Homo sapiens: one gene and its partners. The protein of the gene in region 5 purifies or fractionates together with the protein of the main gene of each other region. This does not show direct contact. Each region holds a gene or a part of one and is shown on either strand. Other genes may lie near its edges. The genes, in order: ABCC1, PFAS, PPA1, PRDX4, PAICS, RRM1 and RPIA.

What was found.
Region 1: the proteins of PAICS (region 5) and ABCC1 fractionate together in Homo sapiens (co-fractionation; one large-scale study listed by BioGRID). This does not show direct contact.
Region 2: the proteins of PAICS (region 5) and PFAS fractionate together in Homo sapiens (co-fractionation; one large-scale study listed by BioGRID). This does not show direct contact.
Region 3: the proteins of PAICS (region 5) and PPA1 fractionate together in Homo sapiens (co-fractionation; one large-scale study listed by BioGRID). This does not show direct contact.
Region 4: the proteins of PAICS (region 5) and PRDX4 fractionate together in Homo sapiens (co-fractionation; one large-scale study listed by BioGRID). This does not show direct contact.
Region 6: the proteins of PAICS (region 5) and RRM1 fractionate together in Homo sapiens (co-fractionation; one large-scale study listed by BioGRID). This does not show direct contact.
Region 7: the proteins of PAICS (region 5) and RPIA fractionate together in Homo sapiens (co-fractionation; one large-scale study listed by BioGRID). This does not show direct contact.

The regions. Positions count from the first base shown.
Region 1 is NC_000016.10:16,123,353-16,128,099, reverse strand, and holds part of ABCC1 (multidrug resistance-associated protein 1), read right to left. Parts: intron 3,312-4,747; coding exon 3,185-3,311; intron 2,291-3,184; coding exon 2,189-2,290; intron 1-2,188.
Region 2 is NC_000017.11:8,267,996-8,271,591, reverse strand, and holds the end of PFAS (phosphoribosylformylglycinamidine synthase), read right to left. Parts: intron 3,060-3,596; coding exon 2,736-3,059; intron 2,639-2,735; coding exon 2,328-2,638; 3' UTR 1,106-2,327; downstream 1-1,105. UniProt on the Homo sapiens protein: Phosphoribosylformylglycinamidine synthase involved in the purines biosynthetic pathway. Catalyzes the ATP-dependent conversion of formylglycinamide ribonucleotide (FGAR) and glutamine to yield formylglycinamidine ribonucleotide (FGAM) and glutamate.
Region 3 is NC_000010.11:70,208,930-70,213,676, forward strand, and holds part of PPA1 (inorganic pyrophosphatase), read right to left. Parts: intron 4,661-4,747; coding exon 4,534-4,660; intron 757-4,533; coding exon 629-756; intron 362-628; coding exon 276-361; intron 1-275.
Region 4 is NC_000023.11:23,670,493-23,674,739, reverse strand, and holds part of PRDX4 (peroxiredoxin-4 precursor), read right to left. Parts: intron 3,212-4,247; coding exon 3,094-3,211; intron 1-3,093. UniProt on the Homo sapiens protein: Thiol-specific peroxidase that catalyzes the reduction of hydrogen peroxide and organic hydroperoxides to water and alcohols, respectively.
Region 5 is NC_000004.12:56,449,063-56,453,809, reverse strand, and holds part of PAICS (bifunctional phosphoribosylaminoimidazole carboxylase/phosphoribosylaminoimidazole succinocarboxamide synthetase), read right to left. Parts: intron 3,192-4,747; coding exon 3,108-3,191; intron 1,939-3,107; coding exon 1,758-1,938; intron 208-1,757; coding exon 49-207; intron 1-48. UniProt on the Homo sapiens protein: Bifunctional phosphoribosylaminoimidazole carboxylase and phosphoribosylaminoimidazole succinocarboxamide synthetase catalyzing two reactions of the de novo purine biosynthetic pathway.
Region 6 is NC_000011.10:4,128,753-4,133,499, reverse strand, and holds part of RRM1 (ribonucleoside-diphosphate reductase large subunit), read right to left. Parts: intron 4,427-4,747; coding exon 4,350-4,426; intron 1,215-4,349; coding exon 1,079-1,214; intron 1-1,078. UniProt on the Homo sapiens protein: Provides the precursors necessary for DNA synthesis. Catalyzes the biosynthesis of deoxyribonucleotides from the corresponding ribonucleotides.
Region 7 is NC_000002.12:88,747,173-88,750,672, reverse strand, and holds part of RPIA (ribose-5-phosphate isomerase), read right to left. Parts: intron 693-3,500; coding exon 595-692; 3' UTR 1-594. UniProt on the Homo sapiens protein: Catalyzes the reversible conversion of ribose-5-phosphate to ribulose 5-phosphate and participates in the first step of the non-oxidative branch of the pentose phosphate pathway.

The DNA of each region.
Region 1 (4,747 bases), on a different chromosome or scaffold from region 5:
TAATGAAATAAGTTAGCTGGGCGGGGTGGTGGGTACTTGTAATCCCAGCTAATTGGGAGGCTGAGGCAGGAGAATCACTTGAACCCAGGAGGTGGAGGTTGCAGTGAGCTGAGATCGTGCCACTGCATTCCAGCCTGGGCAAAAAAAAAGCCAAATTCCATCTAAAAAAAAAAAAAAAAAAAACCTAATGAAATACCTTGTAAGTGAATTAAATTCAGTGTCAAGTTGGAAGCCGCCGGTGTAATACACCCTTGGTTCCTCACGGGGGCACTCACGCCATTCTTACAATGCTCACCCGTGACATGGGACCTGGTTCACCCAGTCAGAATGTTAAAGGAGTGGGCCGAGGTCACCTCTGTGAATTCCTCAGGAGGACAGACCTTACAGAGGCCTTGGTCTCACTCCCAAGGGGCATCTCTCCTCAGGAGGCCGGGTAGCATGACTCCCATGGCACTGGATAGGGTCTCTGAGGAGGCACAGGCTCAACGCCTAGGTCTGCCATTTACCAGCCATGTGATCTTGGGCAAGTAACTTCAGCTTTTTGTCTCAGTTTCCTCACCTGTAAAATGGGGGTAATAGTAGCATCTAAATTATAGGGCTGGGCTGGGCATGGTGGCTCCCGCTTGTAATCCCAGCACTTTGGGAGGCCAAGGCAGGCAGATCACTAGAGCTCAGGAGATCAAGATGAGTCTGGGCAAAATCCCGTCTCTACTAAAAATACAAAAATCAGTCCGGTGTGATGGCATATGCCCGTGGTCCCAGACACTCAGGAGGCAGAGGTAGGAGAATCACTTGAGCCTGGGAGGCAGCGAATGAGATCGCACTACACTCCAACCCGGGCAAGAGTGAGACCGTGTCTCAAAAATCAGTCATAGAGCGGGGTAAAGACTGAGTGCATTACTCTATATTAAACGTTTAAGTCTGGGCCTGACATTCTACAAGGCACTATGTGTGTCCCTGTTATCATTAATGTAGGGTGGGGGTGTCGCCAGGCATTATTGTGATTATCTATTATCACTGCTGTTCCTACTTGTGCTGCTGTTCAGGGCCTAAGAAGGCAGTTATTAAGGGCAACGCAACATCAAAGACTGGAGGCACGGGTCCTAGTCCCAGCTGTTCTACCAAGCCACGTGGGACCTTGGATCAGCTGTTGTCCCTCCCCAGGTTCCCTTTTTCTCCATCTATAAAAAGGGGACTGGGGTTCAATAACGGCAGGGTTTCCCAAACTTTGGTCAGTTCCCAGCTACATCATTCGTGTAGTATGCATGTACTCATTCTCTTGTTGTTTTAATATGCTTAATCAAGTCACTTAGACTTAATTTCTCAACTTACTTAAGAGGAAAATTTATTACAATCACAAAAGGAAAAGTAGTATTATTTTCCGTAACAGGAGTCCCCTATACAAATACATAACAGGCCAGGCGCAGTGGCTCACGCCTGTAATCCCAGCACTTTGGGAGGCTGAGGCAGGCGGATCACCTGAGGTCAAGAGTTTGAGACCAGACTGGCCAACTTAGTGAAACCCCCATCTCTACTAAAAATACAAAAATTAGCCAGGCATGATGACAGGCACCTGTAATCCCAACTATTTGGGAGGCTGAGGCAGGAGAATTACTTGAACCTGGGAGGAGGAGGTTGCAGTGAGCCGAGATTGTGCCACTGCACTCCAGCCTGGGTGACAGTGAGACTCCATCACACACACAAAAAAACCAAATTCATAACAAATAACAGAAGGTTATTTCTGATAGACAGAATCCGTCCTGTTGAAGACTCCAAGTGTGAGGGCTGCTGTTTATCTGTCTGTTGAAGGGAGATCATCTCAATTGCTAAGGTGTTAAAGACCTGCTAGCCCCAGACTAAGACTTTCTCTGTGATACCATCAGAAGTTATGAAAGAGAAATAGAGGGGGAAACTTCTTCACAATGTGAATACCTTCTGAATGCCCTGACAGCATCCCACAGTCTCGTATATGGATACCCCAGATCTTGGGTAAAGCCGGTAAACTATTTTCACCCTAAAACCGGGCTCTAAATAAGTGCTGCAAAAAGACTGGACAAGCGTTAAGATGCACTTCTACCTGGTGAGGTATCCAGCTCAGAGGCAGAGGTGCACAGGATAGGGTCCAGAGATCTCCTTGGGGTAAAGCTACACCAAAGACCAAGAGGTCCAGCCAGGGGCCCTTGCCTACCTCCTTCTCAGTCTCTGAATACTCCTTGAGCCTCTCCACGGCCACGATGTTGGTTTCCATTTCAGATGACATCCGAACCAGCCAGTTCAAGTACGTGGTGACCTGTGAGTGGAAGAGTCACGTGGCATTTCTAGAGTAAGCGGGCGTACTTGACTTTCCTTTTTCTTTTTTTCCACTGAGATAATAGGAAACAAATTATTTTCAACAAGTATGAATTATGGGAGGCTGAGGCGGTCAGATCACCTGAGGTCAGGGGTTTGAGACCAGCCTGGCCGATGTGGCGAAACCCCATCAGTCACTACTAAAAATATAAAAATTAGCCAGGCATGGTGACGCACACCTGTAAACCCAGCTATTTGGGAGGCTGAGGCAGAAGAATCACTTGAACCCAGGAGGCAGAGGTTGCAGTGAGCCGAGATCCCACCACTGCATTCCAGCCTGGGTGACAGAGTGAGATTCCGTCTCCAAAAAAAATAAATAAATAAAAATAAAAGGTTATGAGTTATGAAACATTCAGGTAAGAAAGGTACCGAAATTAGCAACCCCAGGTATAGCCATCACCCAGGCCTGCCACATTGCCATCTCCTAAGCACACACATTTCCAAAATAACTCATGGGCCACATAATAAGAAACTGGAAAATATTTTTAGCCAGGTGACAATATGAAAACACAATGTATCATCATTTGTGAGATGCAGCTAAAGCAGTTCTTAGAGGGAAATTCATAGCTTTAAAAGCATTCCCCTCGTACCTGGAAGTATCCTCTTGGGCCACTAAGGAATCTGTGTGACTGATGGGGAAAATCCTGGCCACATGTCAAATCCGTCTCCTGCTCTAGTTGGTCACCAGGCACTGTGGCACTGTACCTGCTCCTCAAACTCCGTACCTCTCAAGTTCCTCTCCCCCATTCCTGTTGGAGCTGGAATCCAAAGCCAAGGACAACTGGCTCCCCCATTAACAGACTTTAATAATCCAGCCAAGAGCATCCCCTCTTACCTGCAATGAGTAAGACACTGAGAGGCCCACCAAGCCAGCACTGAGGCTGTGCCTGGAGATCACCGCAAACAGGGCAGCAAACAGAACGATGCAGTTGCCCACACACTCCAGCCGCACGGCCAGCCACCTGCGCCAAGACACACAGGCAGACAAACAGGCATGGAGTCAGCTCTACAGAGACTTGGCTTACAGCTCTTGGGGGAGGAAGGGGATTCTTTGCTAACTCAAGTAACTCCGCAGTAATTCCAGAGAGAGTCCTTCCTGGCACTGCTTTTTCAAAACATGCACAATGGGCGCAGGGTAGGGAGGGCCGAAGGCACGAGGCCAGTAAATCCTCATTAATCTGGCAAACCCATGGATTAAAACAGAGCTCTCCAGAGGCAATCTTCCCTGGAATCTGAAGCTTGCCTTTTTAAGAACCAACTTTTTTCTCATTGAAGCCTTTAAAATACATACACATAGGCCGGGCGTAGTGGGTCACTCCTATAATCACACACACACACATACACACACACACACACACACACACACACACACAGCCGGGCGTAGTGGGTCACTCCTATAATCACACACACACACACACACACACACACACACACAGTGCATTAACAACAACAAAAAGATGTCCTGGAAATTCCTAAATACTAAGAAGACATCAACTGTAAGAGACACTAGGGATTTAAAATAACCATCGTTTCTCGGCCTTTTGGCTAAAAACAAGTAGAAAATAACAGTCTCTTGTTACGAGACAGATCTGGGAGGGGAGTGCGTAACTAGTACGAGTAAACATCATTGTAACGTTCCCAAGCCCAGACTCTTCATTTCAAAGTGTTAAAATATACTATTTTACCCTTTAAAATAGAAACAGAAATCATGTTTTCTGTCATTTTGTTTTTTTGAGATGGGGTCTTACTCTGCCATCCAGGCTGGAGTGTGGATGACATGATCACAGCTCACTGCCGCCTCAACCTTCCAAGTTCCAGTGATCCTCCTGCCTCAGCCTGAGTAGCTGCGACTACAGGCCCATGCCACCACACCTGGCAAATTTTTGGTTTTTTGTTTTGTTTTTAGAGACAGGGTCTCCCTAGAGTGCCCAGGCTGGTCTCGAACTGCTGGGCTCAAGTGACCCGCCTGCCTTGGCCACCCAAAGTGCTGAGATTACAGGTGTCAACCAATGTGCCTGGTCATCTTATTTGTTTAAAGCTAGGTTTAGTATGGTATCATGTACCATCAGAACTATTTTATTTTACTTTTTATTTTATTCTTCTCTTCTCTTCTATTATTTCTTCAGATAGAGTTTCGCTCTCGTTGCCCAGGCTGGAGTGCAATGGTGCGGTCTTGGCTCACTGCAACCTCTGCCTCTTGGGTTCAAGTGATTCTCCTGCCTCAGCCTCCCAAGTACAGGCACCCACCATCATGCCCGGCTAATTTTTTTGTATTTTTAATATAGATGGGATTTTGCCATGTTGACCAGGCTGGTCTTGAACTCCTGACCTCAGGTGATCCACCCACTTTGGCATCCCAAAGTGCTGGGATTACAGATGTGAGCCACCGCGCCTGGCC
Region 2 (3,596 bases), on a different chromosome or scaffold from region 5:
AGTAGAACACAAAGAACTGGATGAAAGGGATGTAGTAGAATGGCATGAGCCTGCAACGGGCAGGGTTTTCTTTGAACTGGGTGAACAGTCTGGCAGTGGTACGAGGACCCCGACTCCCCAGCCTGGGGAAGATGAGATATGTGAGGTTGAGGTTTGAGAAGAAAAGCCACCACTTGGAGGGGCTGCAGAAGTGGCTCTCAGAGGATAGCTGGTTTTCCATGAAGGCAAGGAGGGAGCAGAGAGCTAGCCTGGAAGGTTCACCAGAGGGCCCTTGGGAGTGGGTGAGTGGGAATGGAGCTGGGTGGGGGTCAGCAAGGACAGGGTTATTTGGTTACTGGATGAAAACACGGATGAAAAGCCAGTGGACTTGGTCTTGATAGTGTCTGAGGAGGGTGGGTCTTACTTGGCCACTGCGACCCAAACCAGAAACTGCTCCCCCTTCAAAATCCACGAGTTTACTTATCACAGCCAACCAGGTTACCTCCCATGCCATCCTTTGACTTTTGCATCAAGCACTTAATAAACTTAATATCTAACCCTTGGTACCAGCCCCCAAATTGTATGTTCGATACTATAAATTTGAAAGACATACATATATCCTTTCCAAGGGTCAGGAAAGAACATTCAAATGTCAAAAATGATCCGGAGGAGTCCCATACTGCTCAGGGTAGGTCGCTTTGCAAAGCAATGAGAAAAATCTCTGAAATAGTTGTTTTCCCCATAGCCATCATTTAACATTGTTTCATTATTATCAGTTTTTTCTCAGGGTGGCTACTCTACCAGGAGCACACAGAAGTGCTCAGCGCCCCCACCCAGCTCTCCTAGCCCTCAGGGATCTGGGATTATAGTCTCCATTCTCAGGCAAACTCCTTTTATCAAGATGTTGAACATTCTAGGGAGCCAACTGACTTGAGGTGTACAACAGAACAGTCATGAGGAAGGGACCTCTATCCACAGTCCTGTGAGCAAAGGAAGCAACAGACAGCTGCCAGCACAAAGTCTCAACACACTGCCTCCAGGAAGTAAGACTGCAGGATGGCGGGAAGCAGATGTAGTATGGGTGCGCCCAGCCCCCCTCACCATCTGTGGACCCCAGGCAATGCAGTCAACCTTCATTCATCCTTTATTGAAAAGGCGGGGAGGGGCTATCAAGTCCTTTGCTGAATTTTAGTGAGAATTAATTCAGATACATACCAAATGCCTCACACATGCGTGGCTTGAGCTAAGTGTTATACACAGCTATTATTTTTAATTCTATTACACATAAACTCCCTGAGGCCGGTGACAGTGCTTTGCAATAATAACTAATCAACAACAGTCAATGCAGTAAGTGAAGAGTAGAATTCCAGCATACTAAAGGGTTAGGATCTAGGGATGAGAGCCCCAACCACCTCTATCAGAAACAGAGCTGCTGGGCCAGCTGTAGTGGCTCCCACCTGTAATCCCAGCACTTTGGGAGGCCGAGGCAGGCGAATCACTTGAGGTTAGGAGTTTGAGACCAGCCTGGGAGACATGGTGAAACCCTATCTCTACTAAAAATACAAAAATTAGCTGGGTGTGGTGGTGTGTGCCTGTACTCCCAGCTACTCGGGAGGCTGAGGCAGGAAAATTGCTTGAACCCAGGAGGCAGAGGTTGCAGTGGGCCGAGATCACGCCATTGTACTCCAGCCTGGGTGACAGAGTGAGACTGCCTCAAAAAAAAAAAAAAAAAGAGAGCTGCTAATTTAGAAGCAAATAACAGGAATGCTGGGTTCTGAGGCCAGCCCTAAGACAGCCAGAAACGCTGAGAAACTTCCACAAGCAACAATTCCTTACATTCAGTGCAGTGTAGCACTTCAAGAGAAATCCAGAAAGTTTCAGTTCCAGATGAGAACAATGAGGTGGTGAGGGGCTGATCTGCATACTATTGCTGAATTTGTCTGCACCCGCTAACCCCAATGATGAGAAAAGGGAGCGCAAAACATCCCTCAGAGCCAAGGAGGCAATTGCACACCGGTGATCACTGGGTGTTGTGAAGTGGGCAACAGAAGCCCCTGTTCGGACCTCAGGAGTCCTAACTTTTCCTTGTCGCTCTTTTCTCTGAACCACATGCTGTTTCCTGGGCTGAGAAAGGGCATGCCATGTTAGAGCAGAACTGAAAATAGACACAGCCACAGAAGGAACATCAGCAGGCAGATTATCGAGTCCGCTGAGATTTTGGCATTTTGGTCCTTGTCTGTCCAAGATATTTTTGGAAATAATATGGGGTGCTCCTGAAGGTCATGGGGGAGGGGGCAGGACCCACTTAGGTGAAAAGCCATGGGGCCCAGGTGAGCCCCTGTGGCCAGTCAGCAGCTCCCTTCCAGGGTCCAGTTTCGGGCATTGATAAAGAGCTGGAGCCAGGGGGAGGTGGTCAGAGTATCAAATGGAGGGGGTCGCCATGCCCACTGCCAAGGCCTAACGGCCCGCTCAGGGTGAGGCATGACAGCCAGGTGGCGGCCATCACAGGAGCAGATGCCAGCCACGCCCCCTGGGGACCCATTGGGATTCAGAGGGTACTGCTCTGTGGGGTTCCCGTCATCATCAGCCCAGTGCAGTGGAGCCAAGCCCCTGGCCTCAATCTGAGCTTGGAGTTCCGGAGAAGAAAATGCTACGTAACCTGGGATGGAAGGAGGAGGGAAGTGAGAGCCAAGGTCCTTCATGCCCACCCTTGCCCCCAACCCTCGGGCCCTCCCCCAGCCTTCCTTGGGCCTGACCTTCCCCGTGCGCACTCCACACGGGCAGCACGGCGCCCTCCATCCCTCGCAGCATCAGGGCTGGCCCAGGCCCCACACGCACGCTGGCCCAGCGAGACTCGTAGCGCCCAGACAGGTTGTGGCGTAGCAGAAGGCCTGGCCGGGCTGGCTGGGAGTCAGGGCCCATCTCTGCAGCATCCTCATTGGGGTCGCCTCCCACCCAGCCGAGCAGAGCCAGCAGTTGACAGCCATTACACACGCCCAGGCTGAAGGTGTCTGGCCGCTTCCGGAAGCGCCTCAGCTCAGCCCCAGCCCTGGGATGAAAGGTCACAGCAGCTGCCCACCCTAGCAGGGAATAGGGAAGTCAGGGTGAGACATGGAGGACCTCAAAAAAGGGAATTGGGAATGAAGGGGCATAACTGCTCTGTTTCTTTTCTTTTTTCTTTCTTCCTTTTCCCTCCCTCCCTCCTTCCTTCCTTTCCTTCTTTCTTTTTTTTTTTTTTTTGAGATGGAATCTCATTCTGTCACCCAGGCTGGAGTACAGTGGCATGATCTCGGCTCACTACAACCTCTGCCTCCTGGGTTCAAGCGATTCTCCTGCCTCAGCCTCCCAAGTAGCTGGGATTACAGGCGCCCGCCAGCACGCCTGGCTAATTTTTGTATTTTTGCATGCCTGTAATCCCAGCTACTTGGGAGGATGAGGCAGGAAAATCGCTTGAACCCAGGAGGTGGAGGTTGCGGTGAGCCAAGATTGCGCCATTGCACTCCAGCCTGGGCAACAAGGGTGAAACTCCGTCTCAAAAAATACATATATATATATATATATATTTAAAAATATACATATTTTAATAATATATAAATAATATATATAAATAATATATT
Region 3 (4,747 bases), on a different chromosome or scaffold from region 5:
ACTACAGGTATGTACCACCATGCCCAGCTAATTTTTGTACTTTTTGTAGAGACAGGGTTTTTCCATGTTGTCCAGGCTGGTCTTCAACTCCTGGGCTCAAGCAATCCATCCACCTTGGCTTCCCAAAGTGCTGGAATGACAGGTGTGAGCCACCGCACCCAGCCTTGTATCTCTTTTCTAAGTGAAAGTAACAGTACAGTGTCTTATGATTATTAAAACCTTTTCTGCAAGCTGGTCTGCTTTGTGTGTTAAACATGCAAAGTGTTTACACTTACCAACTGATTCCTTTTCCATTCGTTTTCTTAGTCACTAATGCTTTCCAATGGTCATGAGTGCTTTTAATAATATCAATGGCAAAGTCCTATAATTTGAAGAGGTTTGCATTACAATGATAAAAAGGTATTATTTTCCTATTATCAACATTTCCCCAAAGCCTGATACTTTGTCTCTTCTGAATCATTTCCTTATTCTAAAAATGGAAGAGAATATTAAAGTGAATAAATAAACACCAAGACTGTGTTATGTTTCCAGACTTCTGTTTTGTGAATCTTTAGATGGTAACAATATGGTTAAATTATGAGTCTCAATACAAATGAGCCTAAAGCTACAGTTCTGAATGACATATTACCTTATCTTTAAATTCTGCATTAAACGCAAACTCATTTTCTGGTTTTCCATCAGGAACCTTATACCTTCTAAACCAGTCCACAGTAGCTTCTAAGTAGCCAGGTTTCAGCCGTTTGACATCATTGATATCTAAGAAGAGAAGAAGCATAAGATGACAGTGAGAATGATTTTTTTAAAAAGAAAGAAGAGAATAAGCAGATTTCAAGATGCACAAATAATTATACACTCAACAAAAATTCCAAGTACTTATTTTGAAAGAGCTGTGGAATGACTTATCACGGAAGTTCAAGATAACATTGGAGCGAAGCCCCTTGTTGAGAAGAGAAGCCATACACATATACATTGAAAGAAAATCATCTAGTATCTCTGAATAGCTCTGACACTAAGTACAGAGAACAATCAGTACAATAGTAATCTCTGTTAGGTAAGGGCAAACAGCTGGTGGCTACATAATGAAACAACCAGTTTGGCAAATGTAGATAATTCCTATGAGAAGTGTACAAGATACTGAAAAAGACAGAGGTTATCTTTTTTTTTTTTTCAGAGACAAGGTCTCGCTCTGTCACCCACGCTGGAATGCAGTGGCCCGAACAAGGCTCACTGCAGCCTTGACCTCCACAGTTCAGCGATCCTCTCACCTCAGCCTCCTGAGTAGCTGGGACTATAAGCATGCACACGCCCAGCTAATTTTTAAATTTTTTGTAGAAATGGGGTCTCGTCATGTTGCCCAGGCTGGTCTCAAACTCCTGGGCTCAAGCAATCCTCCTGCCTTGGCTTCCCAAAGCACTGGGATTACAGGCTTGAGGTACTATCCCTGGTCCAGAGGCAGAGGCTATGTCAGAGGATCACAACACTATTACATACTAAAAGATAAGAAAAATAGATTAGATTGATATCCATTGATGGGTTACGTATTAAATGTGACTAGACTTTGCTGGATAGTACAGGCACTGTACATAACAATACTTTAGTTCTGGCTGACAGAAAAGTGCACTGCTTTAAAAATTTTAAGTTTCTGTATAGCCATCAACAATGGCTAGCCTCAATGTTATCAAACTGCACTTCAAATAACAAACTCCTGCTCAATGCAAGCAAACAGAGATACACATCCTAAAAAGTCAGTTAGGAAAAGTATTATGAGGAAGAGAAATACATTCAACAATAACAAAAGCTTATTTATATTTGTATAAGATAACATTGCTTCACTCCAATTTATTTTTTTTTTTTGAGAAGGAGTCTCGCTCTGTCTCCCAGGCTGGAGTGCAGTGGCGCAATCTCGGCTCACTGCAAGCTCTGCCTCCCGGGTTCACGCCATTCTCCTGCCTCAGCCTCCTGAGTAACTGGGACTACAGGTGCCCACCACCATGCCTGGCTAATTTTTTTGTATTTTTAGTAGAGATGGGGTTTCGTGTTAGCTAGGACGGTCTCGATCTCCTGACCTCATGATTCGCCTGCCTCGGCCTCCCAAAGTGCTGGGATTACAGGCGTGAGCCACCGCGCCCGGCCGCTTCAATCCAATTTATAATCTGCATAAAGAATAGCATGCATTCTATTATCATAATATCACTAAAAGTATGGAAACTTTACAGAATGCACTGGGAAATGTTTAAGCACTAGTAAATTTCAAAGAACTTATAATTTACATGAAATGTGTCACCTGATATAGAAATAATTTGGAAATCCAGAAATCCAACATGCAAATGTTGATGTTTTCCAATAACAGAAACTAATTCTCCAATTATTCAGACACCAACTGAGTGCTCAGTAATTCACTGTGATTCTGATACTATCTACCTGGAGTTAGCATCAGATCTCAAAGGTTAGGGGCTCAGTCTCACAAGACTGCCCCACTTCAGATGCCTCCTGTACTTTTGACTATCAGCTATAAATTAGGGGTTTCTACAATCCTCTCCCCAGGTCCCCTAATTTGCTAAAATGGTTCACAGAACTCAGGAAAACACTGAAGTTTAAATTTCGTTATATAAATACAACTCAGGGACAGCAAATGGAAGAGATGCACAGGGGCAAGCTATAGGATGGACAATAGACACTGCCTTAGGTTGACATTAGGGAAAGCTGCATACTACTTGCGCCATGGGACCAGCCACCCCGAGAAAGTTTTCAGGGTTCTAATAACCTGAACTGCAGGAAAATAAAGCCTTAGTAAATGAGTGCTGACAGAGTGATGGGCTTGGCTTCACTAATTGTGGCCACAGCATGCCAAGTTCTCTTGCATAAGAAGCACGTTGGAAATGCACACACGGACCAACAGAACAGAGCCGTACTACCAAGTAGTGAACAGATGGTGTGAATGCACTCTCACCTTTCAAAATTGAAACGAAACATTAAAGGATTGGCATTCTTCCAGTCCTTCTTCAATGAATTAACACAGATGCAAATATACATCACATCATTTTGAGGGAACATGCTCTCAAGGTGACTCTTATCACTGCTGACATTGACCTCCATCACCTGGCTGAGGCAGTGTTTGTCAAGTTTCTCTGCTCTAAAGTCATCCTCTCCTCTCCCTTACCCACACTGTACTCTTTGGAAGGAAGTCACCAGGCACAACTCACAATTAAGGACCTCCTTGAGAATGGAGTATCTGCATAAATTATTTGGAATTCTTCTGCTTTGAGATTTGTCTATTCTTCCTCATTTGTCTATTTATTCAATCATTTATTTGTCAGTATAGACTCATGGAGATTTATTTTATGTTCCAGGTTATATTACAATACTACTTTATTTTCTTGCTCAAAGTGTTCTAGCTTTGGCAACTCCTATGTATGTACCCAATAATAAAAACATAAGTCCACACAAAAACTTGTACAGGAATGTTCATGGCAGCATTACACAGCCAAAACAACCCAAATGTCCATCAACTGATGAATGGATAAACAAAATGTAGTATATCCACACAATGGAATAATATTCAACCATAAAAAGGAGTACTGACAGATGCCACAATATGCAATATGGATAAACCTAGAAAACATTATACTAAGTGAAAGAAACCAGAAACAGCAACAACAAAGATCCATATATTGTACCAGTCCATGTATATGAGATACCTAGAATAGGTAGAATAGGCAAAGCTATAAAGACAAAAAGCAGATTAGTGGCTGCCAGGGCCTGGAGAGGAGGAGGGAATAGGGAATGACTTGAACTAGTGGTGATGGCTGCACAACCTTGTGAATGAATGAAATGCCACTGAATTTCACACTTTAATTAAAATGGTGAATTTTATGTTATGTAAAATTTACCACCAAAAAAAAAAAAAAAGGGAATGAAGTGCTGATACATACTACAATACGGATGAATCCTGAAGACACTTACTTCGCTAAGTGAAATAAACCAGACACAGAGGCCACCTATATGATGCCATTTACATGAAATAACAGCATAGGCAAATCCATAGGCACAAAGTAGATCTGCAGTCATCAGGGACTGAGGGAAGGGGGACAGGGAGTGATTGCCCATGGATACAGGATTTCCTCTGGGCTGATGAAATGTTCTGCAATTAGAGAGTGGTGATGGTTGTACAACTTAGTGAATATACTAAAAACCACTGAATTGTACATTTTACAATGGTGACTCTTTGATATGTGAATATCTCAATTAAATGTTTTAAAATAAATAAACATACCAACTGAGTGCTGGTATGTGGGGAAGGAAAGGACCAAAAAAACAGTAAGAACCTACCAGATTTTTTCTTTCCTGGAATGAAGGAGAAAGTTTACTTAGTTAATTACAAGTGCAGTCATAGAAATAATGCTTGTCCAGTGCTTTGTTCCTCCATCCTTTAACAGTTTGAAGGTAAGGGCTTACAATTCTGTCATTATAGGTTAAGTATGGTGGTGCTTATGAATTAATTAGAAAGACTTCAGACTTTTCAAATTTTCTTACCATTATAATTGGCTGCATCAGGATCATCCACATTAATGGCAATGACTTTCCAGTCGGTTTCCCCTTCGTCAATCATAGCCAATATGCCTAGAACTTTCACGCCAATTATTTCACCTCTTGCACATACCTGAGAGTCAATAGCCAAAGTCAGGACAACATTACAGAACCACACTCTAGAAGACAGTTTTACTTGGCTAACAGGAAATAAGAAAGA
Region 4 (4,247 bases), on a different chromosome or scaffold from region 5:
TCAACCAATGTTCCCTTCTCCCTTATAGCAATAGCCACCCCTCATTTTATTACTTTTATTTAATAATACCTTTTATTTATATAGTATTTTATAGCTTTCAAAGGATCTATACAAATTTTATGTCATTTCACTATTTTTTTTTTAATATTCCTATACCAACCCTATGAATTAGATGCATCTATGTGTATTTTGGAGAGGAGGCAATGTTTTCCAGTACCCCCACCCCTCCTTTCTTGATAAGGTCCTCTTCCACCTTGTCTACCAGTCCTGTGCAGCCAGGGATTTTATACCTTAATACCCTCATGTTGTCAGGCCATGTTTACAGAATATTACTAGGGTGGCATTTTTTCAAACCGTGGTAGGGACTCCTTAAATTAACTGAGTTCTAAAAAATATTTTTAAAAAGTGAAATCGAATAGAAAACAGGAGACTCTATCATACATACTAAGGGTAAATTATGAAACACATATTTATATATACAAATATATATGTTTGTCTTCAACAGTGATGATATTCAAAATATTTAACAATCTTAACTCAAAGCTGGCTTTAGTTCTGGAGGTTTCTGAAAGGGATCAGGCAGGAGGACTAACTAGTTGGTGAGGAAAGGGAAGTGGCTATTTACCACATGATATGAGGGTTTTTCAGTATTTTAAGGAGCATGGCTGTGCTGGTGCATCCAGATGGAATGTTACCGTATATATATGTGCCTGTGTACTGGCTGACAACGAAAAATGTATTTCCTACTGTGAGACATGGTCAAGAAAGTTTGAAAAACATAGACTTAGTTAGGGCACAAGTTCCTACCAGATACCAATACAGGATTTTAACATGTTTCAGGTATTCAGGTACAGCACTGTCATGTCCAAGTAGACAGTTCTAATCTCGGATGATGTCCCTGGAAACCTGGGCTATAAAATGTATTTTTAATATTTTCTAAAGGGTAGGAATGGTCAGCCTCAGCCTTCCTTTTTTTTTTTTTTTGTGGCAGGGTCTCACTCTGTCACCCAGGCTGGAGTGCAGTGGCGCGATCTCAGCTCACTGCAACCTCCGCCTCCCGGGTTCAAGCAATTCTCCTGCCTCAGCCTGCTGAGTAACTGGGACTACAAACGCCCACCACCACGCCCGGGTAATTTTGTTTGTATTTTCAGTAGAGACGGGGTTTCACCTTGTTGGCCAGGCTGGTCTAGAACTCCTGACCTCAGGTGATCCGCCCATGTTGGCCTCCCAAAGTGCTGGGATTACAGGCGTGAGCCACTGCACCCAGCCTCTGCCTTTCTTCTTATTTCAAGGAATGCTACCTAGAGATACATTTGACCAACTTCTTAGTGAAGACAGAAAAAGTTTTGGCAGGAAACTGAAGGGTTACGTTTGTAACTTTCCTCCTTGTAGACTGTGGCAAATGCCCCAGAATTCTTCCTTCTCTAACCAGGCACAGTCCAGCATTACATGAAAACAGGAAGAGGCTATCTTAGCTCCTTGTCCCAGAAGACCATTGCTAACAACATGCTCCAATTAACTATCTCTTACCCATTATGGAGTTATGAATAACAATGGAGAAACACAGAACATATTTTTCTGCTACATTAGACTAACTTCCAAATTCAGGGTGTTAGTCGTATATATTTAACATACATGTTAACCTTCTGGTTTTATAACAACATGAATTTAGAAGGCCTGTCATTTTTTATGTCTACTGAAATTTCTACTTCTGGTTTCTATTAGAAATTAAGCTATACTTAAAAAAATCAAGTCACAATATGAGTTGATTAGAAAGAAGCAAGTTCTTATAATTTAAAAGATTATATATTATGCAGACTCATAACTTTAGTCTCAATGTAATAATTTTCATGAGAATTCTTCCTTTGTGGCTTAGAGCAGGGGTTGGCAAATAGGTCAATAGGCCAAATCCAGCAGAAAAAATTTGTTAATCCCTGGCCTAGAAACAACCTATAGCAATGAGCTTAAGTATACCCTCCCTGCAAGTTTAAATTTGATCTATGTAGTTCCAGATTAGTCCTAATGGAAAAAGGCACAGTGGCAAAGATAGAGGAGGAAACTTCTAGTTATTTGTTGTAACCAAAAAGTAAGTTCCAAGAGAATAAAAGATAAAAATTGACATAACTCTTTTTGGTCTCTTCTCACTTTCATGAATTTTGAAAAACACTCAAAATAGTGTTTTGTAAAATAAAATTAAATCCTCAACGTGAATAAAGCTGTAAGGGTATTTACTTTTAGTCAACTTTCTGACCATATACAAAAACGCTCACTGTCACAGAGTTAAAAAAAGACGAGAAACCCCACAATAACCATAACATATACACAGGTGTTATTCCTTATTCCTTAAGCAGTATATAATATTTTCAGCAAAATGTTCAAATCCCAGAAAAGCAACAGATGCAGCAAAGAATAAAAATGGAAAAACCACAGTTACATGGTATCACTAGAGAAAATGGCTTAATTTTCTTTTTCTTTTCTTTTTGAGATGGAGTCTCGCTGTCGCCAGGCTGGAGTGCAGTGGCACTATCTCAGCTTACTGCAACCTCCGCCTCCAGGGTTCAAGCAATTCTCCTGCCTCAGCCTCCCGAGTAGCTGGGACTACAGGCGCGTACCACCACGCCCAGCTAATTTTTGCATTTTTAGTAGAGATGGGGTTTTACCATGTTGGCCAGGATGGTCTCGATCTCTTGACCTTGTAATCCACCTGCCTTGGCCTCCCAAAGTGCTGGGATTACAGAATTAATTTTCTAATCAAGAGAGATACAGTAAAAAGAATTATGGCATAGGTCTTGCTATTAAATGCTTTCTAATATATTATCAGTCCATTTTCTTGCCTTAGTAGGTATAGCTTAATGAATATATTGTAGCTTTCCTCTAATTATTCCATTATAACATAATCATGTAGACATAAGTATTGAGGTCGGTGTGTTATGACTCTGAAATATATGGTAGATGTTACCTTTTTAAATACATTTCTTTACTTCAGCTTGCCTTTTTAAAAACCAAGAGCTGAACAAAATAATTTGTTTGATACTCCTGAAAAATAATTGATAAAGACTGAGATTTTACTAGCTATTTACATGTATTACTTACAAATCAAGTGGGTAGAAGAAGAAAACCAAGTATTTCCCACGATAATCAGTTAACTTCAGCTCCTTAAATTCTCCATCGATCACAGCTGTTCCTTCCCAGTAGGGCGCTGGCTTGGAAACTAAGAAAATAAAATACATGATGTTCTGTAACACTGAGAAAGTTGGTGGAATGGTAGAAGGACATCTTTAGAAAATCACTAAAAATCAGGGCTACCTTTAGATCTCTTTGGCAGTCTGGTGAAGCTTACAGACTTCTTAAAAGAGTGTTATTGAATGCAAAAAGGAAAATACATAGAATTACAAAAGAAACCAATTGTATTTAAATGCAATTATAAAAATATTAAAAAAAATTGGTGATATCATAATACATGTGCTCTATAACACTTCAAAACTGCAAGATCTAGTTGTAATCTGACAACTACGTAAGATAATGATGAGTGAAAATGGTGTTTCAGGATACCTGCGATAACCATATGTAGCAAGAAAATAAGTGATTCTATTGGTGAAAGGTACAAGCAAGTGCTGCTGAAGATAGTGTAGTTTGTTGCTGACATTCATAATAGAAGGAAACACTAAATTTCAGATGGGGATTAGTGAAAATAAATACTTTTTTCCCCTATTCATGCTCACAGACCCCTTAAATTCTACCCTGCACTAAACCCTCCTGGATACTTCACTATAGTCCCGCTTCAAGTTGTCAACTTCCTACATTTCAAATAATTAGATTTTCCTTTCTCTAATGGCAGTCTTCCAGATGTACTAGTTTGTCCAGCTTCTGACATACACATGGAGGACCTGCTGCAGATGAGGCTACACAAAATGAGGAGGGAATGTACAAATATGTCAGGCCAGAAGTGTAAAATCCCAGACCATGGGATCATTTTCCTAGAGGGCTTTGAAAGAAGACTCCCTTGAACAGGTTTCAAGTGACCCAATGGAAACTGAACAGTTCATGCTGCTCTCTTGTAAGGGCGTACAGTAATTTTAGCCAACACACTTAGATACTAATGCACCTTCATGCTCTGTTAACACATTCAGATAGCACTTATACTTTCAGACCCCTTACAAACACTGAAGTCAATGCTTGCTTCTAAGTTTGGCTAAGGGTCCTAGAAAGTAAGGCTTATACTTCTCTGTAACAGCCACCATTTATGG
Region 5 (4,747 bases):
TGTTAAATGCTTGTAATGAACAGTTTTTAAAAATTCAATGTATCTTACCACTGGGTAGTCGAAGAGAAGACCACACATCCTGAACTCCCCAGTCTGGTGTGAGGGGAGGACAGCTGATAACTGGATATGCAGTGTTCCCAGACATCACTGGTCCCAAACCATTACTTCTGCCTGCCACTGCCACAAATACAGTAGGAATGCCATCCCCTAGGGAAATGACAAGAGTATAATTATGCTAAACATTCAAAACAGATTTAAAGACAGGGTTTTTTTTTTTTTTTGGTTTAAGGCCTATATGTTTTAATTACTTGAGGTCCTTGAATAGTCTTCTCTGAAAAAACATAAAAGATACTATTATTACACATATATTCAAAACATAAGGTTACTCTGCCACTTACTATAAGTCAAGTAATAAAGTAGCTGGAATCGGTTTGGTTGTTTTTGAGATCTACATTATAAAGGGGATAGCAGGGTGTCAGTGAGGGAATAGCTCATAGGCCTCTTCTATTGCTGTATAGGCTGGCCAAAGTGAAGAATGACACCATCTGAACAGGTGTCTTTCTTGACTGGGTGGTCCCTCAACTGGTGCAGGGAGAACCAGTTAATATAAACTAGGGGTTTAGGGACACGTCTTCAAACAAGAGTTGAAGGAAAGTTTAATTAATATAGTGTCCCCCAAATTTTAAGGCCCTTTGATACATTTTTTAACATAATCTCTTAAGCAATTCATTCTTTGATAAATTTATAAATTATCCTCCTGTTTCCTAAAGCAGAGATTTGTTAACCTAGAATCCAAAATTGTATGTATTTGCAATTTTCTGAAAAGAGTTCTAGAATTCATTAGCTATCAAAGGAGTCTGAGTTCCCCCAACCTCCCACTCCCCCAAAATTAGTAACTACACTTCCATAGCAACAACCTGTACACGAAATAATCAACATTTTTTTCCAGTTGAGAAACATTTGGTTGTAAACCCAGGGCTCCATTATTTTAGATCACTGCTATACCATTATTTTTTATGTACTATATTCTGAAACTGTTCTTTAATTTCCTATCTGACTGCCTCCCAGGAAAGGGTGGCAACTAAAGATTCCCGGGAGAACCGGCTATTTTAACCTCCCGCCTCCTGTAACTGTGGGGGCCTATTTTCTATTGGAGTATATTAGAAGCAATGCTCCAGGGGCTTCTTACCAGGTAAGGATGCCAGAGGTTCTCATCATTCTAGTCTTTGTTTTCTTTTCATACTTGCATTTTTAATTATTTCTCCCTGCTCCTTTCTTTTCTAAGCTTCTAGAATACCTTAAGCTCTTTGGAGGTGAGTATTAAGAAAGCCTAGCGGCCAGGCGTGGTGGCTCATGCCTGTAATCCCAGCACTTTGGGAGGCCAAGGCAGGCGGATCATGAGATCAGGTCAAGACCATCCTGGCTAACACAGTGAAACCCCGTCTCTATTAAAAATACAAAAAATTAGCCGGGCATGGTGGTGGGCGCCTGTAGTCCCAGCTACTTGGGAGGCTGAGGCAGGAGAATGGTGTGAACCCGGGAGGTGGAGCTTGCAGTGAGCTGAGATGGCGCCACTGTACTCCAGCCTGGGCGACAGAGTGAGACTCCATCTCAAAAAAAAAGAAAGCCTAGTATATCATGTGTTTTTCCCTTAGAAAACTGACAAAGCTCTTTTTTCAGCATTATTAGTCTAAAGTGTGTAATTACTTTTAGCAAAATCAGAAATACCTGAAATGTCCATATTACTTGTGGTTTACCTTCATACTCAGCTTTAATCCTCAGAGTTTCATCTGGTCCTTTATGCGCAGATGTTACTCGAAGTTCACATGGAATGCCAAAATTTCCACAGGCCTTCTTGATTTTTTCACAGTGACCAAGATCAGAAGTAGAGCCCATCAACACTACAACCCTGCACTGACTTTCTGATTTCAAAAGCAACTGAAGAAAAAATACGTGGATATGAAAAGAACATAAAAACAAAAATGAATAAATGAGCTAGAGTTTGTAGTAAAATTATATCTGGGCCCAATATTTTCTTTCTTAACAGATCAAATTTAAGACAGAGACAAACAACAAAAAGACAGGATTTATTTTTAAAAATCTCAATATATAAAGGAAAGTGGTCTTCATCAAGACCTAAAGAATTCAATTTTTATCAGACAAATTATTTAAAATAAACAGTAAAGATACTCAAAATCTTTTAATTTTCAGGAAATTATAATACAAAATATTTCATCCTAAGACCTTTAGTGCACTTTGTTTAATGGAAGCTTTAAGGTATGATTAGCCAAATCAGAAGTCATGTTCTAAGTCTTTGTAAGTTAATTGCTTGTAACTCAAAATATATATTCCTATAAGAATAATGTTCTCAAATGTGATTATGACCCTTGCATAATCACAAACCCCATTCAACTCCCAGAATTATAGTAATACCATAAAACTTAAAGGAATATTTAAAGTCACACAGAGTTCCATCCATCCCATGCTAATGGAACTCTGACTAGCAGTGCAGGTGAGTAGGAAATATAAGGTTTCTCCTACGGGGTAGGGAGGAGACAGATTCCAGGTTTCCCCAACAGGATCTGGGAGGTATGTATTGGCCAGCTTAACAGCACGGAGTTCCAGTATCCTAGTAAGGATAGCCCAGCTGATACATTTCCTAAAAGTGTTCCTCACTTTCAAAGTCACTGAAGAGCTGGGCGTGGTGGCTCACGCCTGTAATCCCGGCACTTTGGGAGGCCGAGGCAGGGGGATCACGAGGTCAGGAGATCAAGACCATCCTGGCTAACACGGTGAAACCCCGTCTCTACTAAAAATACAAAAAATTAGCTGGGCGTGGTGGCCAGCGCCTGTAGTCCCAGCTACTCGGGAGGCTGAGCTAGGAGAATGGCGTGAACCCGGGAGGCGGAGCTTGCAGTGAGCTGAGATGGCGCCACTGCACTCCAGCCTGGGCGACAGAGCAAGACTCCGTCTCAAAAAAAACAACAACAAAAAACAAAGTCACTGAAAAGAAAAGCACTATACTCTCCCATTTTTTTTTCTTTTGAAACAAGATTTTCTTAGAAGAAAAACACATAATACATACAGTTTTACTATAGAAGGTTTACCTCTACTCTCTCTGCAACCCACTCAAAGTTTTTCTTTACCATTTGGAGCCCTTCAGGAGTTACTTCTTTGAGGTCCCGATAAGACTAGAAAATAAGATAGAAAGTTTAGAAAACAAGTATCTCTTGCTACCTGAAACTATTTGGTTTCTGAGTTTTGGGGAGGGATTATGAAGAGTTTGTATAGCAAGGGATACTTCTGAAAATGCATCTTTTCACTTCCTGAATTAAACTAACAAAGTTCCATAGTAAAGTATACTTTTATTTTCACTTAAGGTTAAGTGTTTTCTGTACTAGCAACTACAATTAACTGCCTTGAGAATTTTTATATATTAAGTATAGAAAGGGTCTTGCTCTAATTTTGTTTTCTGTTATTTTTTATTTTAAATACATGTGCAGAATGTGCAGGTTTGTTACATAGGTATACATGTGCCATGGTAGTTTGCTGCACCCATCAACCTGTCATCTAGGTTTTAAGCCCCATATGCATTAGGTATTTCTCCTAATGCTCTCCCTCCCCTTGCTCCCCACCCTGCAACAGGCCCCGGTGTGTGTTGTTCCCCTCCCTGTGTCCATGTGTTTTCAGTGTTCAACTCCCACTTATGAGTGAGAACATGTGGTGTTTGGTTTTCCGTTCCTGTGTTAGTTTGCTGAGGATGATGGCTTCTAGCTGAATCCATTTCCCTGCAAAGGACATGATCTCATTCTTTTTCTTTCTTTTTTTTTTTTTGGAGACAGAGTCTCGCTCTGTCAACCAGGTTGGAGTGCAGTGGCACAATCTCGGCTCACTGCAACCTCCACCTCCCGGGTTCAAACAATTCTCTGCCTCAGCCTTCCGAGAAGCTGGGATTACAGGTGCCCACCACCATGCCTGGCTAATTTTTTTTTTTTTTTTTTTTTGAGACAAGGTTTCACTATCTTGGCCTGGTCTTGAACTCCTGACCTTGTCATCCACCTGCCTTGGCCTCCCAAAGTGCTGGGATTATAGGTGTGAGCCACCGCGCCTGGCCAATCTCATTCTTTTTTATGGCTGCATAGTATTCCATGGTGTGTGTATATCACATTTTCTTTATCCAGTCTAACACTGATGGGCATTTGGGTTGGTTCCATGTCTTTGCTATTGTAAATAGTGCTGCTCCTGTGCACGTGTCTTTACAGTAGAATGATTTATATTCCTTTGGGTATATACCCAGTAATGGGATTGCTGGGTCAAATGGTATTTCTGGTTCTAGATCCTTGAGGAATCACCACACTGTCTTCCACAATGGCTGAACTAATTTGCATTCCCACCAACAGTGTAAAAGCGTTCCTATTTCTTCATAGCCTCTCCAGCATCTGTTGTTTCCTGACTTTTTTAAAACAGCCATTCTGACTGGTGTGAGATGGTATCTCATTGTGGTTTAGGTTTGCATTTCTCTAATGATCAGTGATGATGAGCTTTTTTTCATGTTTGTTGGCTGCATAAATGTCTTCTTTTGAGAAGTGTCTGTTGTTTTATATAGGAGCAGAAATGTGGCCTGGTAACATGCAGGAGACTTGGAATAGAGTCCCAGATCTGTCCCTGACTCTAGTAATTGTGAAGATACCCATCCTCTTAAGACCCTTAGTTTTCATTTAGCCAAACAAAGATAATACTTGCTGTT
Region 6 (4,747 bases), on a different chromosome or scaffold from region 5:
AGCTTTGAAGCTTAAACTAAAATCACTTAAGAGTTATTTAATGCTAGATTGCTTGGTAAATTCTATCTTTTATAAAGACGAGACATCAATGCCACCACACGAAAGCTATATTCCTTTAAGATCTTGACATCTGTTATTCAAGAAACAATATAATTAGCCAGGCATGGTGGCGCAGCATGCCTGTAATCCCAGCTACTCAGGAGGCTGAGGCATGAGAATTGCTTGAACCCAGGAGGCAGAGGCTGCAGTGAGCCAAGATCATGCCACTGCACTCCAGCCTGGGTGACAAAGTGAGACATTTTCTCAAAAACAGTATCGACAACAAAAACATTGTGGTGTGGTAATCGTTATATAATATATACACATATCTAATCATTACACTGTATACCTTGGTTTTATACACAATTTTTATTGTCAATTATACCTTAATAAAGCTGAAAAAATATTTTCATTAAAAAAGAAACATATGGCGTTTGCAAAAGTGAAAAGAATAGCGCCTAAGATGGGTAAATCTATAAATACTTAGGTTAAAAAAATTGGAAACGTATCCTTCTCGAACTTTACAGAACTTTACTTCAAGATATCTGGAAATTCACAAATAGTCTTTTAAATTGAGGTTCTCAACCCTAGCTACACATAAGAATTACCTGGGAACCTTAAAAACAAAGAAAAAACCACTGGTCTCACCCACCATAAATTCTAATTGGTAACCAAGTCTGAGAACCACTGCCTTAAATGATACTTCTTTATACATTTTGAGTATCCTAACTTAAGCATCTGGGAGAAGTTATAGAATATATCACTATGATTACATAATGGTTAAACATCATGTTTAACTATCAACAACTTACTTTCATACTCGACCCTCATTCACTCATTCTTTCAACAGATTATTTATTAAATGCCTATTGTGCTGAAATATTAATAACAAATAATAATATTAGAGATGAAGATGACTGTCTTTATCAAAGTTTGCACCCAAACTAAGAAAATGGGCAAATTAAACATGAGTGAGCATTTACTCCCAACATCAGGCTTTTGAAAGATCTCCCTGTAAGGCTGGTTGTGAACTGCTCACCTGAAATTCTCCTGACAAGACTCTGCGAGTATAGATGTTGCTGGTGTAAGGTTCAATGGACTCATTATTCCCCAGGATCTGAGCAGTGGAAGCTGTAGGCATCGGGGCAATAAGTAAACTGTTTCTTATACCATACCTAAAGAAAAGGAGATTATCAGGTACTAGTCCCAAAGCTACAATCTGCCAGGAAAGCAGCTACTTTAAGTCACTGTAGTAAATGTAGATAAATGTAGTAAATGTAAATGTAACATCGTACATGCATTGAACTCACACGTTGACTTTCAAATTAAACTCCTACAGGGAGGCAATTCCACAGTATGGGTGCTATTATAGCCCACTCTCCTCTTAAATGCCTGACTCCTAAACTGAATTAGTACAATTTTTATTGTTGGCTATCCTTATCATACCATGATTTATGCCACTTGGACTGTGGCACTCAGGAATCATAACACTTGATACACTATCTTGCGTAGGGAAATATTCAAATCACTGTTGAAGCGCTCCCCACCTGTATTAGGTTACACTCATCCAACCCTCACTCTTTTCCAAGTGCCTATAAAATCATTGTGCTAGGCCCCTTCTGGAAAAATAATGATGAGAAAGTGTTCAGAATCAGAGAAATATCACCACAATTCTCCATTATCCTGTAAAGAGGAAGAAATTATGCTCAAAGTATATTCTTCAATTATAAGTTCCTGCAAGAAGGTTAACATCTTTTGACTAATAAGAGAAAATACACTATCTGACACACTGAGAAATCTCCCAACTGCCCCTGGCTCACCTTCAAAGCTCAGCCTAATTGATAGCAATTTTAAAACATCTTTCCTCATCAGGCAGGCACAAATACAAATGTCAAATACAAATATCTACTCTGCAAACATTTTCTCTGACCTGTACCTTTCCGTATACCTTAACTACTTGTTTTCTTAGTCTCAAGTTTTTAAAACACAAAGAGCCTGTCTTTCCTACATTCTATACCTATGGATTCATACAGTGCTTAGCATACAGCCTCATATCCTGACGGAGTCTGTACAACTGGATATAGTTTGGCTGTGTCCCCACCCAAATCTCATCTTGAACTGTAGTTCCCATAATCCCCACGTTACGGGAGGGACCTGGCGGGAGGTAATTTAATCACAGAGGAGGTTACCCTCATGCTGTTCTCATGAGATAGTGAGTTCTCACAAGATCTGGTTTTATAAGGGGCTTTTCTCCCTTTACTCAGCACTTTGCTTGCCGCCGTATTAAAGAAGGACCTGTTTGCCTCCCCTTCTGCTATGATTGTAAGTTTCCTGAGGCCTCCCCAACCCTGCGGAACTGTGAGTCAATTAAACCTCTTTCCTTTTTAAATTACCCAGTCTCAGGCAGTTCTTTATAACTGTGTGAGAATCGACTAATACAACTGGGTTCTCTACTTTTTAGTTATTATTATTTTTTTATTTACTTTTTTTGGGGGGTGGTTCTCCACCTTACTCTGTCACTTTGTAGTGAGGTATCAAGCAAACCACCAACTATCTTCATGTCTTTACTTCCTCATCTGTAAAATAGCAACATCATCTGTCTACAGACAGGTAAATGTTGTGAAAAGTCCTACATATATGATATATTCAAACTATGGAATTGTCTATAATAATTAAAAACATTAGGTAGACCTACAGGTACTAAAAGAGAAAGAGCTCCAAAATAAATCACTAAATAACAAGTCTCAGAATACATCAAGTCTTTTTTTTGAGACAGAGTCACAGTTACCTAGGCTGGAGTACAGTGGCATGATCTCGGCTCCCTGTAATCTCCACCTCCTAGGTTCAAGTGATTCTCATGTCTCAGCCTCCCAAGTAGCTGGGATTACAGGCATGCACCACCACGCCCAGCTAATTTTTGTATTTTTAGTAGAGACTAAGTTTCGCCATGTTGCCCAAGCTGGTCTTGAACTCCTGACCTCAAGTGATCCACCCACCTCAGCCTCTCAAAGTGCTGGGATTACAGACGTGAGTCATGGTGCCCAGCCCAGAATACATCAAGTTTGATCACATTTATATGACAAAACCGTGTATGTGTACCTATCTGCAAATGTACTGAAAAAGATCTAGAAAAATACACACCATTAACAAGTCTTATCTCTGGGAAAAAGAATAAGTTACTTTTTTGGTTTGTTTTCTGAGACAAATGGTTGGCAGAAGTATGAAGAAGGGCTTTTACTTTCTATTTTATTTCTGTATTTGAGCTTTATTAATAATAAATTTGTGTTCATATACTAATTTTGAAATTAGAAAAAAAGTCATGTATATAAAAAACTAAGCCATAGTATTTTGAGGGGAAAAAAAAAAAAAAAAAATATATATATATATATATATAAATACAGTACAGGTCCATTTTCTTAAAAGTTGAATTTCCATGTAAATACACATGTATGTGTACTCTTGGAAGAAAACCTAAAGGATGACAGACACTAAGATGCACACAGGTTTTCTGGGGGAGGCAGTATTAGTATAATTTTCATTTTCTCTTTCCAAATCTATGTTTTCCTAAATTTTCTAACATGTATTATTTGAGTAGGAAAACAATTTTAATTTAACAATTTTAAGGCAAACGGTTATTTTTTTTAAAGAGCATTTTAAAGCTACTGCTTCATTCTCCAAATATTAATCACTTTGCATATGCATTAACCCATAAATGACAAAGTCATCACGATAGAAAACAAAAACAATTTGCTTTGTTATTCACTCTGCAAAACATTCTGTCTGCCTTCGAATCCCTTATGCTTATTAGTTTGAAAGGCCTACAAAAACTCAATTTAAAAATTTTTTTTTCATATAGTCTAAACACATTACCCTCCAAAAACTCTTCCAAAATCCATTATTCCTATGACAATCAATTCAAACAAAAGCCATTTATATGCCCGATGTAACTAAATTGGGAAATAAATAAGAATGAAAAACATTTAAAAAAAAAAATCATAGTTGGAAAAAAGCCTTAATGAGAAAGAAAATTACCTAATCTAGGTGTGTTAAGTCCCTAAAATAAGATCAACTAATAATAGTAATTCCTACCAGGTACTGAAATGCTTTCATTGTGCCAAGCAACTTCCAGGTTACTATATATATTATCTTACGAAGTTTTTTCCCAAAATAGTTTTGTGAGATAGGCCATTTTAGCCCCATTTGTAATAAATGAGTTTAAGAAGTTAAAATGACATATCTAACTTCTGAAGATCCAGAAGGTGAACCTAAACCCTTCTGCCTTCAAAGCTACTTTACATCTTTTCACTTACTTTGCAATCTTCTCCTTGAGAACCTTCCAGTCCCATAGGTCTGTAGGAGTAACATTCCACATATCATACTGAAGAATCTAAGGAATACACAACTCAAATTTATTCTACAGCAAGTTAAAACTATGACCAAAAAAAAAAAAAACCCACAAATGACTAGCTGCCATGTCCCCACATCCCAACAAATGCTGTCTTCTAATCAACCTCTATGAGGAATACAAGCTCCAGAGATTTTCCTGGACAAAATTCCATGTAGTCATATTGATCAGAAGCAGGCTAAGAAAACTGATTATCCCATGTCATATCTACAAACCAGAAAACTCTAACATTCATAAAAGGGTGTGGCTGACACATTCTCTTTTTTTAACACTAAAAATGTTACTTTCTTCAGTGCCTTCATC
Region 7 (3,500 bases), on a different chromosome or scaffold from region 5:
TCTCCCTGACAGCTTACATTCCAAGTCATTCCATACCATACCGCTCCACTCCACAGTTTTATAAACCTGATCTTAAGATGTAACTAGGTACTATGTGTGCTCACAATAAAAACTAACTAAAAACAAATCAGAGGGTAGCAGACAAGTAAACAAAGTTTCCAGTAAGGCATCAGGAGATCACTGCTGGTGGGCCCCTCACTTTACCAGCTTAAAGAAGTTTTGATTTTTATTTCTCAGCAAACTCAATATTCAGAAGCTTTACCAGCAGACTCAAGTCAAAGGTTTTAAATACAGTTTACCTCATTTTTTTTTTTTGGTAAATATTTCATATAAAACATGAACTCAAGTTCTACTTCATTTAAAAAACTGAATATTTTAATAGTAAAAATATATGTTTATATTTCTCTTTTTAAAAAGACATTTAATAACAATACTTCATAAGACTGGATTTAACTCCCCCTCCCACTCTTCCCCCCACCCCCCACCACAAGTTGTCCAGGCAGAGATACATTAAGGCAAAGGCTCCTGGAGAGGTACGTCCACCTTGGCTGTGGGCTGGAGACTCAAGGTGAACACACTCTGCTCCTTGCAGGGTCAACAGAAAGGCTTCTCCCTCATGTTCACTGAGCCATCCTGCATCCCAAAGTAGACTCTCTCAGCCATGTTGATGAATAGGCCTGTGTCCACCACACCTGCAGGACAAAGGACAGAAAGAAACATTGTTTCAGCCTCCCAAAGCAAAAAGAGACTCAAAGACTGCAGGGTCACTAGAAGCAACTGTCATACACAGCATTGGACGAATGACAAATCTAAAGCCTTTTTCTCCCACAGAGCAATGAAAAGAGATTCTGATTATCTTAATTTCTTCTTGCCACCTCTTTCTCCCCTCCCACTTTGGCCTTCTTTCTGTACCCAAACATGCTAAGCTTTGTCCTGCCCTGAGGCCTTTGTTCATGCTGTTCCCTCTGCCTGAGCCAGTCATTGTCAAGCACTTCAAGGGGCTGGCTCAGCTCTGTCCTTCAGACATATCAGATGGCAAGTCATCCTCTAGAGACCCTCCATGACTACTCCAGCCAAGGAGCCCCACTACCAGTTATTTTCAATCATACCACCAGCCTTGAAAGATTTCCTCGGAATGGGAGGAGATATTTGCAAAGCATATACCTGACAAAGGACTCATATCAAAAATATAAACAATTTATAAATCATCAAGAAAAAGACAGAATCCCCATAGAAAAATGGGCAAAAGACTTGAAGAAGTACCTCACAAAAGAAGCTACCCAAAATGGCCAATAAACATTTTAAAAGATGCTCAAAATCATTCACTGAAAGGAAATACAAATTAATATTACAAGATATCACTACACACACACTGAAGTCAGTGTAATGAAATTCTGCTGGGATGCAAAGACACTCATACGCATTGATGGTGAAAGCTGAGCTGGCAAAAGCACTTTGGAAATGTTCATCTTCCAAGCTGATGGATTCACACCTAACCACTCAGCAATTCTACTCCTAGATATACAACTGTTAGGCATACATTTGGTCATCAAAAGACATGTGTAAGATGTTGATAGTGGCACTTTTCCTATTAGCTAAAAACTGATAATACCCAAATGTCCATCAAGAGTAGAATAGAGGCTGGGTATGGTGGCTCATGCCTATAATCCCAGCACTTTGGGAATGAAGCCCAGGAGTTCAATGGAGCTCCAGATGGAGCTGATGGAGCCCAGGAGTTCGAGACCAGCCTGGGAAACATAACATAGAGATGGCAGCTCTACAAAAAATACAAAAATTAGCCAAGCATGCTGGCACATGCCTGCAGTCCCAGCTACTCAGGAGGCTGAGGTGGGAGAATCGCCTGAGCCCAGGAGCAGAGGTTGCAGTGAGCCATGATTATGCCACTGTACTACAGCCTGGGTGACAGAGCAAGATCCTGTCTCCAAAAAAAGAAAGAAAGAGAAAAAACTAAAAGAGTAGAATAGATATAAACTTTTTTTCACACACATACAGATGATGGAATATGATTCAGCAGTGAAAATTAACAACTACACACAACCTTTACCAAGAATATTTACATATACTCACACATACTTCAATGACATAACACTTTAACTGTAAGAGAAAAGGTATAATGGACCAGGTATGCAGGGAAACAGATACCTGCACACACTGTTGGTAGAAGGCTAAGTGAATACAAGCTACAGACGGCAATCTGAAACCATCTAACAAAAATCACAGACACATTAATCCTTTCATCCAGTGATTCCCTGCTAGCAAAAATCTGCAAACATAAATGACCACTAGTGGTGATCCAGTTAAGTCATAATGTTACATAGGTAAAGTGGAATACATGCAGGTATTCAGAAAAAAAAGGAACAAGGAAGCTCTTTTATAAGCCAATGTGTAATAATCTCCAAGACAGGCAAGGCAGGAAACAGAACATGTATAAAGCAGGCTACCGCTAGTGTAAAAAGGGGTGGGGCGGGAGGAGTTGCAATTTGTGTGTTTATGAAAGTCTATCTCAAAGGCCACACAATTTTGGTAACACTGGCTGCCTCCAGATAGGGTAACTAGTTGGTTGGAAAAGTGGCAAAGAGGACTTGCCACTGTTTAACTCATAATTTTAAACTACACAAATTCAAAAGGATAAATACAATGAAAACTTGCAGGAAAATGGCAATAGAAGACAGGATTAATGTGCAGCACCCACTTGGACAGACAGAACAGTGTGTGGAGACACACATTGTGAACTTTTGCTCCAAGAACCACCACAGGAACATACCAGGAAAACCAAAAGAATTCACAGACCCTTTGAAAGAAGTGGCTTGCTGCTGCAAACTCCATAAGACAGCCAAAAAACTGTGAGTTCCCAAAGTGTGAGAGGGGGAAAAGTCTGCCTCTGAACATACATCCCCACCGGGGAACCTGAAAAATCCAGATCACAGGAGACGGATTTAATCTTACCTAGAGCTGAAATGGATTTAGAGAGCTGAGCAAACTATAAAAGTAGAAGCAGCAGCAGGAAGAGCCCTGTAGACACTTCCAGTCCCCAGCTTGAGCCCAGGGAAGCCATCCCTGGCTTTATCTCACAGGGGTCCTTCGGGAAAAAAAGGCAGCCAGCAGAACTGGGGAGGGGCCACAGGATGAAGGAAGCTTCTAGCTGAACTTCGTAATAATTTCAACTGAGCACAAATTTTCCTGAGCAGAATCCGGTGGGGGACAAATGGGAAGTGCAGATACAAATGAAGAACCCACAGCCGAAGGTGCAGGCAGGCAGGGAGGGGCGAGGCCTGAGAGGCCTGCTTGCTTTCTCAGTAGGGAGGCCTGTAGTCTGGGGCAAGATCTCAGCCCTGCTCACCATGGTGGGGCATGGCGGGAGTGAAACTGGCCTTGCTGGCTGTGTGGCAGCTGGGTGGGGGTCTGTCACTGCCGGCTTTCTCCTACTTCCCTGGCAGCCTGTATGACGCAGAAGAGGCAGCCATAATCCCCCTGGGAAC